Homo sapiens: one gene and its partner. The protein of the gene in region 1 interacts with the protein of each later gene in a biochemical or structural test. Each region holds a gene or a part of one and is shown in the gene's direction. Other genes may lie near its edges.

Region 1 (4,366 bases):
GCTTGACTTTCCCCATAAGGATTACAGAAGGATGTTTCATTCATTCATTCATGCTGTGAGACAGCCTGGGGATACTCATCTTAAAGCACAGTCCTTCCCCAACAGTCTTAGGAATAAATCCTAGAGTGGGCATCTAGCCCAGTGGTTACGGGGAGCTTGGGTGGGGTGAGTGGAGTAGCATCTTTGGGAAGGGTTCCTTCCCCTGGAAGGTGTGACTTTGTGAGCTGAGTTTTAAAGGTTGAGTAGCAGTTGGCAAATTCCCTGGAGAGAGCATCTCAAATCTTTTGTGCTGAAGAACCAGCCATTTTTGTTCCCAGTCGGCCAGGTACCAATACACTGCGGCGCCAGGTGTGACTCACCACGTGAGTCTGACAACACCCAAACTGGTTTATACTCGGTTCAAAGAGTCCACTGATCATGTGCTTGGATGTCGTGGCATTATTAAATTGCTACAAACGTTTACTCTTAATTTCTCTACTTGTTACAAGCTTTCGTTCAGCACAGGACCAGGTAGCACCTGAGGGGCACCTGGAAAGCAGATTGTTCCAGCCTGCGTTCTAACAAGGTTCCCAGGTGACCCTCGCACAGCATAAAGTTAAAAGAACTGCCCTAGGGGAAACGGGACTCAGTGCCAGGTGGGTTTGATCATTCGTCCATCTCAGTGCCATCTGCCATCTCTGCTTCCTTGAGGTCTAGAAAAGGGTTACATTTTTAAAGGTGATATTGGCCACGTCCCCTTCCAGTTTCAAAACTACATTTCCCCGCTGTTACGCAAACGTCTTAAGCAAACCCGACTGCAGGACAGAAAGTCAACACGGGAATGCAGCTTCCAGAAATTCTGATTAGCCTCCGTCTTCCGCTTTGATCTGGCCCCGCAGCCCCGGCAGCTCCGCTGACCGCGCTTCCTTCCCGAGATTGCTAGTCTACCGGGCTGCATTAATGAGATCCGTGTTGAGCCGGTTCCCGGGTCTGCTAAACATGAAAGGCACAGAAGCCCCCAGTCCCTTCTCCTCCCCTCTAAGTGATTGTTTAGTCTCTCTCTGCAGAGGGAAGAGTTAAATCCCCTCCCCACGCCTACGTGGGAAGACCTGGGGAAACACGCGGCCCCCTCCCGGGTCCGCTAACGAGCCTGCGGCTGCTTCGGGCTTAGAGTGGGCGGGGCCTGGTCGGGAAGGGGGCGGGGCGCTCCGCCCGGGCGGGGCCAGACGGTGTGGTTGGCGGAGGGCCAAGCTCCTGGGGGCGGGGCCGCGAGCGGGAGGGCGGGGCCGGCTGCGGGAGGGCGGGGCCGGCTGCGGGAGGGCGGGGCGAGGTCGCTGGGCTGTAGTCCCGCGGGCGAGAGCTGGCTGAGCCGCGGCGCGGGACTGCTCACCTCCAAGCGCTCGCGCGGGGATCGCGGCTCCTGCTCACTTTGCGGCCCGCTGTCCTCCTGCCCGCCCCGAGGGCCCCCGGCCGGAGCGCAGAGGGAGGGGGCCGCGCTCGCCAGCACCCCGCCGCCTTCCCCCGCCTGGGGGAAGAATGTGCCACCAGCTGTTCTCCGCTTGCGAGCGCTGCGCCCAGTAGTGAGGAACTTGGAGGAAGAAGAGACAAAGGCTGCCGTCGGGACGGGCGAGTTAGGGACTTGGGTTTGGGCGAACAAAAGGTGAGAAGGACAAGAAGGGACCGGGCGATGGCAGCAGGGGAGCCCCGCGGGCGCGCGTCCTCGGGAGTGGCGCCGTGACACGCATGGTTTCCCCGGACCCGCGGCGGCGCTGACTTCCGCGAGTCGGAGCGGCACTCGGCGAGTCCGGGACTGCGCTGGAACAATGGATAACTTCTTCACCGAGGTAAGTGCGCTCCCAGTCCGACCTGGCCTCCGGAGCCCAGGGAGAGAGGCGTCTGCCCACCACGCCGCGCGCCCTGGGTACTTTTTCCTAAGCCCTGGAAGGCGCAACTTTCTGGGAGTCTCCTGAAATCACCCCCCATCCCCCCGCGGAGTCTCTGATGAGTAAGCCCGGGCAGGTTTTGTTTCGTCCTGTCCCGCGCTCGCATTTTGCTCCGGGAGGTAGCGAAGGTGCGTTTCCGTTTGCGTGGGTGGCTGGCTCTCGGGGCGCCCTGGGACACCCGCGCCAGGTGAGGCGGCGCGCGCCGGGGCGCGGGCGGGGCGATCCGCCCGCTCGACTGCCCGGGTGCAGGAAGCCCAATAAAATGTTCAGCGGGGACCTGCCTTTCTCCAAGAAAGGTCTTGTCTGGTATTTCCTTTGCAAAACGTGCGGGCTTCCTGTGCAGGGGTTCAAACACTTCCAGAGGAGACGGCTTAATGAAGTGTGAGAAGGAGAGGCAAGGGTTTAATCGGTTACTTTGCTCGCCGAGAAGTGCTCTTTTAAGGCTTGGGATAACTCCAGACCCTGGGATCAAATGATCATGTATTTGTGTAGAGTGTCCATGCAGATTTTGAATTCGAATGTAAAGAAAATTCGTTTAGGGCAAACAGTGGCTATTTTAATAGATGAAACGGATGCCCTCTTTAGGGTCGTTGAGGGTGGGACACTGAAACTTAACTTGAGAACCCTTTTTCCCCCTTTGGGATCGAGACTTACTGTGGTTTCTTGGCTCCCTTTCCTTTCTTGGTTGTGTTTATTTAATAAATTCTGTTTAAGTTTGAGGTTTGAAGTGGCTCAAAGTAAACTTAGTTGACTTGAGAGAGTCTGATGTGATTTTCGTTGAAAGCCAGGGAATGTTTTCTGAGTGCAGAACCGCTTTGGAGTCTTCCAGCAAATCAGATTGATGAGGGCTTGCCTCTGTGTTAGCCGACTTGGTTTATCTGATTTAATTGGATATAATATTTCAAGTCATTCTGCTTTCTGCATGCTCACTGACTGTATTCTCAGACAGCTATTCATACTGGCCAAAGTGATAAATGCATTCTTGTTTAGTAGTCATATCTAGTTTTTAAAAGTGGTGTTTCAGATGTGATACCCACATTCATTGTGGAAGGAAGACTAGAAAGGAATTATCCATCAATACATATTTTTCCTTTTCTTAAAAAAAGTGAAATATATATAATTGTGAGACGCTCGCATTTTCTAGTCCATAGACTTTTGTTTTCATGCTTGTCGAAAGGCACCAGAACTTTCTGCAAGAGTTGCACGTTGTCCAGTGGTAAAGGACCCTCGGGCTACAGTGAGTTCCGGTGTTTAATTGCTTGCATCTGTAAGAAAACGGAGGCCCTGCCCCTAGGGCAATGATTCTTAACTTTGTTGTTTTTGTGTTCTGGGTCCCTTAGAAAATCTGATGAAAATATAGAAATTTGTATTCAGTTTGCACGGATCTCACTCCTCCTGTAGCCTGTCTGAGCACCACAGGGGTCCGTGGCTCCCCCTTGGGGAGAACTCTGCCCCCTAGTGCAAGTGGGGGGAACATCAGGATAACGCGCTACAGCGTCCTGATCTCCTGTTACCCGGTGAGACTTTGACTTTTCAAAGTACTCTTTTCATCTTGCACTGGATACCTTAGTTCAGTGTAAGGGGCCTGGTTGTTGGATTTTATTTCTGTGATCAATATTATTTTGCAGTTGGCCATTAGTGATCTTCTACTTTCTCCTCTTCATTTTGTAGACAGAATCTTAACCCAAAGATATGAGTAAGTCCCTTGCCCAGCTTTGAAGAGCTTGTTCACGAATCCAGAGCCTTTTTCCTTTGCTGCTGGTGACTTTGGTATTTCTGGGAACTTTTCGCTTATTTTAAGGTTATACTTTTAATCTTGTGATGTATGTGTATTACAATATTAACTTCTAATCAGCCGTGAAAGTTCCACCCTTAAATCTAATCACTTTGAGTGGGAAGGAAGCAGGGCCAGTCAGAGAGGTTAAATAGTGAGGTATTAATTGTAGACATACTCTTAACATAGATCCCAGCTCCCCTTTCTCTCTCTCATGTCTTGTAATGGAGCATCCTTTTGTTAAATTGTCCAGTGAAGAAAATGCTGTAATTAATGTCCTGTTAGAATAGAAACAGCGAGTGTGGAAGTGATATATTCCCCAAGGACAGCTAAATTGTTTGGCCTCCTTATCACTAAGTAGAATTCTGTCTTTGCTAACTTTTCCCATTGTGGCTTAGGGGTAAATGACTTGTTGCTTGTTGGACAACAGTTTAAAGCCAGTGCTAACAATTGGGGAAAAATTACTGAATGAGATGTTGCCTGTTTAGCTTTGTGTATGAATGGCCAAATAATAAGGAAATGGGAGCTGCTTGTGATTCGCAACTGCTATTTCTAGCTAGACCAGGGTTTCTCAAACCTGGTACCATTGCTGAGTAATTCTTTGTTGTTGGAGGCCGTCCTGTGTGTTGTAGGAGGTTAAACGCATCCCTGGACTCTACTCAGTAATTGT
Region 2 (3,811 bases), on another chromosome or scaffold:
CGGTGAAACCCTGTCTCTACTAAAAATACAAAAAATTAGCCGGGCGTGGTGTCGGGCGCCTGTAGTCCCAGCTACTTGGGAGGCTGAGGCAGGAGAATGGTGTGAATCCGGGAGTCGGAGCTTGCACTGAGCCGAGATTGTGCCACTGCACTCCAGCCTGGGTGACAGTGAGACTCCGTCTCCAAAAAAAAAAAGAGAAAAAGAAAAAGAAGTACAGTCAGCCCTCTATATCCATGGGTTCTGCATCTGTGGATTTGCACAACTGCAGATCTAAAATATTCAGAAAAATAATTCCAGGTTCTAAAAAACAAAACTTGAATATGCCACGCTTGAGTACTGCATTGAATTCATGCAAATTAAATGATAGGTAGGCATTGTATTAGGTATTGTAAGTAATCTAGAGATTATTTAAAGTACAAGGGAGAATGTGCATAGGTTATATGCAAATGTGACCCCATTTTTATAAGTGACTTTAAGCATCAGCAGATTTTGGTATACAGGGGAGATCCTAGAATCAATCTCCTATGGACAACAAGGGATGACTGTGTACTAATGAGTAGACTTCAGTTTGATTTTTTTGTTTGTTTGTTTTTTGTTTTTTTTTGAGATGGAGTCTCGCTCTGTTGCCCAGGCTGGAGTCAGTGGCGTGATCTTGGCTCACTGCAACCTCCGCCTCCAAGCGATTCTCCTACCTCAGCCTCCTGCATAGCTGGGACTACAGGTGCGTGCTGCCACACCTGGCTAATTTTGTATTTTTAGTAGAGACGGGGTTTCACCGTGTTGGTCAGGCTGGTCTTGAACTTCTGACCTCGTGATCCACCCGCCTTGGCCTCCCAGAGTGCTGGGATTACAGGTGTGAGCCACTGCACCCAGCCAGAATTCAGATTTTTAGTTGAGTCAAGTAAATGAGATTATTAATAAATGAGTCCCAGAGAATATGGGATTTCTTCTTAAAAAGCCAGAACATAAATTTTCTGCACCTAGATCAGTATATTTTAAGGAAATTTGCCTTACTTGTTGTACTTATGAATTTCTAAACCTTTCAGATCCTCTAACGTAGCTTTCATTAGATATCCCAAAACATATTTGCCAGCTGTTGAATGTAATACCACCTCACAGTCTGGGTAAGGACAGTTTATGACAAGTGGACAGGCAAGGAGGAGACTGGTGTTAAGCATTTTAGTGATGATGCCCATACACAGGTAACTTTTCAAAGTTTATTCTACTCTATACCAACAGAAATCAGAGTTGCTATTTCTCTAGAAGAAAACATACACACACCTGTGCCAAGGGAATAACAGAATGGATTTATGCTTTAACCTTCTTTTTTTCTCTCCCACCCATCCCTTCCATATGTTTGTTTTTCCAGAATTATCTTTTGGGGAAAAAAGAAACAGCTGAGATGGCAGATAGAAACAAAGAAGTCCTCTTGGAGGTATGACAACCCCCATTTTCCTGCACATTTAAAAATTAAAATATTAGGCCAGGCATGGTGGCTCACGCCTGCAATCCCAACACTTCGGGAGGCTGAGGTGAGTGAATCACAAGATCAGGAGTTCAAGACCAGCCTGCCCAAGATGGTGAAACCCTGTCTGTTAAAAAATAAAAAAATTAGCCAGGCGTGGTGGTGGGCGCCTGTAATCCCAGCTACTCGGGAGGCTGAGGCAGGGAATTGCTTGAACCCGGGATGCGGAGGTTGCAGCGAGCCGAGATTGCACCACTGCATTCCAGCCTAGCAACAGGGTGAGACTCTGTCTCAATAAAATAAATAAATAAATAAATAAATAAAATAAAATATTAAATACCTTTTTGAAGTCAAGTATGTCAGTGTTCTATATTTGTAGTTACAATTTTAATTAAAGAAGCCTGTGTATTCTTTGATAGTATGAGGGAGAGAGTTCAACTGTGTGAACGTGTTAGGCCACTGAAGACCCTTTATTATTTTGCCAAGCCATATTCTAGTGATCTAAGAATAATGAGCTTTTAGGGGCTGCCAAGTGGGAGAGGTGGCTGGTCAATGAAGGATGTGGTTTTGCTGTTTTTATCTGCTTACTCAGAGAGAAATTTGAATATAATTAGCTGTTCACAAATTATTTCCAGCCTTATCCTTAAATAATTAAATAATTTTTAAAATCATGATCATTTTTTGGAAAAATATAATTGAATTTTTGGCTGATTTTATAGAACTAAAATCAAATAACTTAGTATACTTGAAAACCTGAATAAACCCTTACTTACCAGCAAGGCAATTAGGAAGCGAAGATCAACATTCAGTTTTCATAGTGATACTAACTACGGTTAAGTAAAAATCTGCCTTGTAATTCCTAATTTTTCTGTACTTTGAGGAGAAAAATTAATTTAGGCCCAAATGTCCTATATTAGTGTTTTCTGAGGATTTCTCTTTTCTTTCACAAATACATGATTGATTTCTTTAATATTAGATTTTTATCAAAGCATAGTGTTTAGAACTTAGAATTTTGAGTGTTTATAGTCCTTTCAACCTAGTATTATTTTTTAAATAAATGCCCTCTTTGTCTTAGAGTCACATAAATGGATAGTTTTTAAATTCTTAAAGTTTAATCATACACTTAGCACGTTGCATTCTTTTAAAATATATTCCTGTTTAGTTTGACAGCTAATCTAAATGTAGAGAAAAAATAAAGTCTAACGCTTGGTTTGCCCTGACAGTTTTATTAAATTTAGTGTAACTGTGCTGTTTGCAAAGGTATTTAACTACTGTTACATGCAACTCAGTTCATGTGTCAACTTAGTTTTTCTCCGAAACAGTGTTTTAGTTAAAAGTTTGTAGGTAAAAATTCAGTATTACATGTATGACTGGCATTTTTATTTAATAAACATTTTAGGATTGCCATAGTAGTTCCAAATTCATATTGTGTTTAGAATAGAAAGTGTTTTGTCTTGTTTTTGTTTTTGTTTTTGTTTTTGTTTTTGTTTTGAGACAGAGTCTCGCTCTGTTGCCCAGGCTGGAGTGCAGTGGTGTGATCTCAGCTCACTGCAATCTCCGCCTCCCAGGTTCAAGCAATTTTTGTGCCTCAGCTGCCCACATAACTGGGACTACAGGCTCGCGCCACCATGCCTGGCTTTTTTTTTTTTTTTTAAGTAGAGACGTGGTTTCACTATGTTGGCCAGGCTGGTCTTGAACTCCTGACCTCAAGTGATCCACCCGCTTCCCAAAGTGCTGGGATTACAGGCATGAGCCACTACACCTGGCTGGAAAGTTCTAATTGAGGTTAAATTAGCAGCTTGGTTTTAATATAAAACCATTTTGGTTTAATAACTGTCATGCATTTCACAGGAGTAAACACAACTTTGTTCTGAGAATCCAACGATCATAAGTCTTTGCAAATAATCTTGTTATTTTAGGAATGTTTTTGTGGAAGTTCTGTAACTGTACCAGAAATTGAAGGAGTCCTTTGGTTGAAGGATGATGGCAAGAAGTCCTGGAAAAAGCGTTATTTTCTCTTGCGAGCATCTGGTATCTACTATGTTCCCAAAGGAAAAGCAAAGGTGTGTCCCTTCTGTTGGAATTTGAACTTCCTCATTATGCTAATTGCTTTTAATTTGTATTGAGTATGCTGACAAGGTGAACCCAGGCTATGATTTGTTTCAGTTCGTGGAAGACATAGAATATTGCTTTGTTTATTAATCTATTATAAAGAAGAAGAAACCTGAAAGTTCTTACTTCTCTGGTCACTAGTTGAGCCTATCTCAGTTCTCTTTACCAAATTTGAAATCATAGTTTTATTTGTTGTTTTTTGGGGACTCTTTCTGGAGTAGTTTTGTTTATTTT

What was found.
Region 2: the proteins of MYO10 (region 1) and RAPH1 form a complex in vitro, tested with the Homo sapiens proteins (one large-scale study listed by BioGRID).

The regions. Positions count from the first base shown.
Region 1 is NC_000005.10:16,933,245-16,937,610, reverse strand, and holds the start of MYO10 (unconventional myosin-X), read left to right. Parts: upstream 1-1,322; 5' UTR 1,323-1,802; coding exon 1,803-1,823; intron 1,824-4,366. UniProt on the Homo sapiens protein: Myosins are actin-based motor molecules with ATPase activity. Unconventional myosins serve in intracellular movements. MYO10 binds to actin filaments and actin bundles and functions as a plus end-directed motor.
Region 2 is NC_000002.12:203,455,154-203,458,964, reverse strand, and holds part of RAPH1 (ras-associated and pleckstrin homology domains-containing protein 1), read left to right. Parts: intron 1-1,369; coding exon 1,370-1,435; intron 1,436-3,384; coding exon 3,385-3,528; intron 3,529-3,811. UniProt on the Homo sapiens protein: Mediator of localized membrane signals. Implicated in the regulation of lamellipodial dynamics. Negatively regulates cell adhesion.